Linked DNA regions of Homo sapiens: region 1 is linked to region 2. Evidence: fine-mapped expression QTL. A gene starts in region 2. The other region holds a variant in brackets. All regions are shown on one strand. Distances are from middle to middle.

Region 1 (2,913 bases), 73 kb before region 2:
AACAGAAACACATCCAGGGTTCTGGAGGAGTTCTGTCAGCTCAGAGACAGACTGTGTCAAAGCTTGCTCTTAGGACCTGCTGCCCCCACCCCGCTCTGTCCTCCATTGGTTTTGCCAGTTTTCAGAGTGTCACCCTATGTGACTCATTCTCACACCATTGCCAGGTGGGCAGGGCAAGTGTTACGTAGCATTGCTAAATGGAGCTCAAGTGTGTTAAGGAAATTGAAATTTAGACACAGCATACAATTTCTTCCATAATGCTGGGGAGAGGGGCGTCTCTCTGTGATCTCTCAGTACCCCTAAAGCCATTCTGCACAGCAGCTTTGGATGATTGGATGACTTTGGGAAGAGTTAGGCAAGGTCCAGAGTGATCTGTATATCTGATTTCCCCTAATAATTAATTAGTTAGTTTGTTCTTCTGTGGAGGCTTTAGGACCTGGCTAAGCTTTTAGTCGTCCTCTAGATCAGGGGTCACTAACCCCCAGGCCATGGACTGGTACTGGTCTGTGTGTGGCCTGTTAGGAACTGGGCCACACAGCAGGTGAGCAGTGGGTGAGTGAGCATTACTGCCTGAACTCCACCTCTTGTCAGATCAGCAGTGGCATTAGATTCCCACAGGAGCATGAACTGTATTGTGAACTGCACATGTGAGGGATCTAGGTTGTGTGCTCCTTATGAGAATCTAATGCCTGATGATCTGAGATGGAACAGTTTCATCCTGAAACAATCTCCCCTGTGTCTGTAGAAAAATTGTCTTCCATGAAACCAGTCCCTGGTGCCAAAAACGTTGGGGACCACTGCTCTAGGCCCCCACGTGACCTGAGTGCTAAACTGGACTTTCTATTTAAGACGTTAGAGGGTCTGTCTCTGAGGTTCCTCCTCCACCGTTTCTGACCTAAAATGTGTATGGATGGAACACGAATAATCAGAGACATGCTAGGACTCCACGGGCCTCCGAACAGATTTGCCTGGGCCTGGAGAGTCCAGGAGATACCCGCAGGCTCTAAGGCATTTGGACCTTCCAAGGAAGCAGGGATGTTGGGCATTTTTGCACTGACTACACACGCCCTCAAAATACTGTGCTCTGTTCTGGACTCAACAACTTATGAGTGACAGGAAAAAGTAAGATGAAAACTCAGAGGTAAGCCACAAAGATGAAAAAGTAGATTGGTAGATGTTATTTTTGCATGAAGATGGAAAAACTAGGAAGAGGCCATTTTGGAGAGAAAAAGTCAAGGGGAAGTTCGGGAATAATCTTCAAACACGTAAAGTTTATTTTACAAAAACAGGAGGCCATTGCTGTCCACGGAGAAGGGAACGAAGAGAGACGTGCATGCACTCTTGGCTGGGCGGATTCAATTAGCAAGAGGAAAACTGTCTTGCCAGCTAGAATGAGTGTCTGAAAGTTGTAAAATGACCTTCTCTGGCACCCTCCTAAGCAGGGTGGATTCTCCTCTTGCTAGTGAGTTTAC[G/A]AGTTGAAGTCCCTGACAGTAGCAAAAGGGCTAGATCAGACATCCCATTAGCACTCACCCCAGTGGTTGTAATTTTTCACTGAAGACCAAATAAAATCTTTAGATTTGTAGAAAATGGCATCAAGAGAGCAAGAACATTAGAGAAAAAGGAAAATATTTGAACTGTCAGCTCCAGGAATTGTAAGCACAAGAGCTGGGATGCAGGGCCAGTGCCCTGGAACATGTAAAAGCCCAGCTTTGCTTCCCTCAACTATTTCTCAAACTGTTTACAAGATGGAATTAGCTATTCTTCCAAGCTTCCAGAATTCTGTGATTGTGAGTGCTTTTTACTTAAACATTTTTTAAAAATTTTTTTATTTTTATTTTTGAATTTTCATAATTTGGTGACAGAAATTGTTTCATTTTTATTTTTTGGAGACGGAAGTCTTGCTATGTTGCCCTGGCTGGTCTCAAACTCCTGGCCTCAAGCAATCCTCCCACCTTGGCCTCTCAAGTGGCTGGGCCTGCAGGCGTGCACCACCACACTTGGCTATGAGTGCTTTTTAAAAAGAATGGTTTGAATTTGTTTATATAAGCTACATAGGAATGACTCATTGTCCAGTCCATTGGCCACTCTGGAAGTGAAAAAAGAAGAAATAAGACTGTTTCGGTATTGAAGACCTAAACCAACAGTGAGGCTTGACTTTGCTGCGAGTTGCTTGATTTTCATGTGTGTGCATGTGTAAATAATAGCTGGTACCACTCTGAGCTGTGTTTCTCATTGTAGGGTTGGCTCTTAGTACTCTTGCGATGTAAGTCACAGCAATGTGCTGTGCTGAAACGGACAATGGACTCCATCACTATGAAACGGACAATGGACTGTCTCCATCACTAGGAACTGTGTGATCTTGGGCAAAGCCACCTAACTTGCAGAGTTCTGGTTTGCCTATCTCTAAGATGAAGTCTTTAGAATAGACTAGTGTTTCCTAAATGTCAGGCAATTGTCATTAAAGTCACATGTTTACCTTCCAACTACTACCTGTACTTTTATATTAATATTTTCTTTACATTAACTCATTTTAAAATTAGATAAATATACTTAAAAGGTAATTTTGTATCTTATTACACAAGGAATGCTACACTACTTGCCATAAGTAGAAAATAAATGCAAAGTAAACACAATGAAAATAAAACAATGTTATTAAATTCTAGCTAGTAACTGCTGCTTGCCAAAGACTGAGCCTGAGGCCTGTGCTCTCTCTTTACTAAAAGGAGATTCAGAAGTGTTAGAAACATATTAAAGATATATTAGTCCCCCCTCCAAAAAAAAAAAAGATATATTAGTCCCAAACTGATACTTTCTCTTTGACATAATCATGAGGGTTGAAAGGAACTTACAAGGCTGGCTAAATCTTTTTTAAGAAAACTTTTGTTTTGAAGTGATTTCAAATTTAGGGAAATT
Region 2 (2,913 bases):
ACTTTGTGGTTAGAGTTTATAAGATAAAATTCTTATAATGTATTAAATCTTCTTCATTTCACAATGTGTTTTGTATGGTTGATTACCGTATTGTTTCACTACTTTTGTAGTCAAGTTTTTCATTTCTACTTTTGTTAACTTTTCTCTCTGATGAATAAAGAAAATTCCTCTGTAAATCCTTATATGAGAAAGAAAGAAAGTCTATGAAATTAATTTGATTTCTTAGGTTCGCAGATGCAAAAAACGTTATATTCCTGGTTTCACATAAAAACCATATTAGGGTAAATGATTTAAGAACATAAAATGAAAATTCCAGCATAAATTTGGGTGAACAAAAAGAGTGGTGCAGAAAACGTAACACATTTGGAGAGAAAGGGAGAAGAAAATATATATATTAAAAGTTAGGCAAGCATTTTATTAAAGTGAAAGTTCTAAAATATCAGTACACAGAGTTTTTAGGGGGAGAAATTGGTTTATCAGAAAACAGAGCCCCGTTATTTTATTTATTCTTCCCACCATTCACAAATTGCCTCCTCGTGAAGCGAAGTGGCATTTTCCTGGGGCAGAAGAGTCCCATTATAAATGCAGCAGAAAGAAAGGATGCTTCTTTGGACTTATCTCCTAGCTTCTCTGCGGCCTGCGGGGACTGAGAGGGTGGGCGAGCTGGTGTCCACTTTGTATTTGAATGAGCTTTCCCGGGCGAAGGCGGGGTGGCCCGCGCAGAGTGCTGCTGAGACACGTTTGGTGCCCATCGAGTGCTCTTGGTCTCATGGCTTTAGAGTGAAAATGCCCGCTCGTTAATGTGTCCCCAGGCGTTAGAAGTACAGTTTAGAGCCAGGAAATGTGGCCTCCCCCGCCGGGCTCCTGGCTACGCCCCGGCACCCCACCCCGACCCCCGCCCCGCCAGCACCTGCTTTTCCGCTCCCGCGCCCCGGAGGTCCCCGGGCTGGAGCTGGGGCGCGAGCTGGCAGCGGGGAGTGGGTGGCGCCCGGACCGTCGATTGCGGGCCCGTCCCGGGAACTGCAGCGCCCTCCCCACCTGGGCAGGGCAGCCCCGCCACCCGCCCGGGCCTCGACGGGCGCGCCGCCAGGGCTGGGGAGGGGCGGCGCGGAGGGCGGGGGCCGGGCGCAGGGCAGGGCCCGGCTGTGCCTCGCCGGCCGCTCGGGCAGCTCCCGGGCCGCGGCCAGCCGAGGATCAGAGCGCTTGCCCCGGGGGTCTGTCGCGTCGCAGGCGCCGCCGGAGCCCTGGCCATGAGGACCCTGTGGATGGCGCTGTGCGCGCTGTCGCGGCTGTGGCCCGGGGCCCAGGCCGGCTGCGCCGAGGCCGGGCGCTGCTGTCCCGGCCGGGACCCCGCCTGCTTCGCCCGCGGCTGGAGGCTGGACAGGGTCTACGGGACGTGTTTCTGCGACCAAGCCTGTCGCTTCACCGGGGACTGCTGCTTCGACTACGACAGGGCGTGCCCAGGTGGGTGGTCAGGCCGAGAGTGGGGCGCCGGCCGTTAGCCTGCAACCAACGGGCACAGGGCAGGGCGCTGTGCCAAGGACCTCAGTCCCTGAGCCAGGTGTCCTCCAGACCCTTTATCCCCACCCATCCCCACCACCGCCATCCAGGTACGCCCGGCTCCGTTCATCCTAGGGTCTCCCAGTCCCCTGCTAGACATCGAAGTGTCCCCCCACCCCCAAGACAGACCAGAGCCCGGATGGAAGGGCTGGATCCCGCTGTTCTCCAGCGGGATGGAAGGGAGCCGAGAGACGAAATCTCCGACTCAGAAACTCCAGCTGGATAGGGCCACCTCTGGCCGGCAGAGATGGCACTGACAGATAAGGGGCATGCCCCTGGGCCAGGCTCCACCACCTTCATTCTGTCAACCCTCGGGGATCTTTGGGGCTGGTGAGGGGTGATGAGGGCAGGATTGTGTAATCTTCCCACTTTGTGCCAAGGGCGTGCTCTGGGAAGGTATTAATACTTTCTTCTGGAGAGCAAGGTCTTAAAAATCTGAAGATGTCCTCATCTCTGGACCCCAAAATGTAGAACAGCCTCTTTCTCCTAGGAGGTGTACAGTATGTTCTTGGAATTTAATTTTCTCTGTACAGCATGACAAGGATTTTATCTCGAGGTCCCTATTATGTTGTAATCTTGCTGGTTTTCCTTTAGGGTCAGTCTTTTTCAACTTTAAATTTCCCACAGTATCTCACAGTTCCTTGTCCCCGTAAGGGCTCAATAAAAGCTGGTTTAATTGAATTAAAAGATAAAGGAACAAATGATGAGTACAGCCTTGAGGAACAAGGTGTACCTGAGAGAAGCCAGCCATGGAAGTGGAAGTCGCCCTGCTCCTGTTAATCACATCATCCCCAAAGCCACACAGATATTAGGGTTCGAGCTGAAGGATCCCGACATGTGGGAGCCTCAGCATTTTCTGGGGCTATGCCATTCCCTGGGCAACCGGATACCCAGTGGCGGGGAGCACCCTCCTGCCTCTGTGCTGTTTGAAGAGGGCTTCAACCCGTGGCCAGGCCCGATGCTGAAAGAACACAGTTGAAAGCATTAAGATTTTTTGACCCTGGTTGAAAGCTAATGATTTACCTGTGAATATTGATATTATTTTTGATAAAGCTTTTTGATAAGCTTCTTTCCCTTTCTGGCTCTAAGTTCAGAGTATTTTACTACTAAAGTAAGATGGAAGAGTCAGCTATTTAGGAAATGCAGTGCCCTTGAGCCAGGTAACTCCAGCCCCTCCTCACAGCATCCTAAACTGTCGGCCTCATTTCCCTGCATAACTCAAGCAAAGCCTCTCTCTCATGAGGGGCTTGCATACATTTTAAAGGTAATTATGGAATTCCTGTGACCCAGCTAATGTCCCCTGATCTGTGGTAAGCGCAGGGATAGAGAAGTGACAAAGATGCAGTCTCTGCT

Alleles and levels. Alleles are on the strand shown, and positions count from the first base shown. SD is a standard deviation of normalised expression in the study named.
With allele G in place of A in region 1, the expression in esophagus mucosa of the gene that starts at base 1,146 in region 2 is higher (moderate effect, 0.44 SD a copy in GTEx).

The links. PIP is the estimated chance that this variant, and not a neighbour inherited with it, causes the effect. A credible set is the group of variants that fine-mapping cannot tell apart.
Region 1: its variant is the best candidate, but not a certain one, in a credible set for the expression of SBSPON in esophagus mucosa (GTEx, PIP 0.62).

The regions. Positions count from the first base shown.
Region 1 is chr8:73,164,640-73,167,552 of GRCh38, reverse strand. The region is part of intron 2 of LOC107986891 (a long non-coding RNA gene); the gene reads left to right. Among named protein-coding and RNA genes, the nearest start is that of SBSPON, 73 kb to the right of the region's middle. The variant G/A (reference allele first, on the strand shown) is at 1,473.
Region 2 is chr8:73,091,405-73,094,317 of GRCh38, reverse strand. SBSPON (somatomedin B and thrombospondin type 1 domain containing) reads left to right here and starts at 1,146. Exons shown (of 5, transcript NM_153225.4): 1 at 1,146-1,464. The coding sequence starts at 1,251.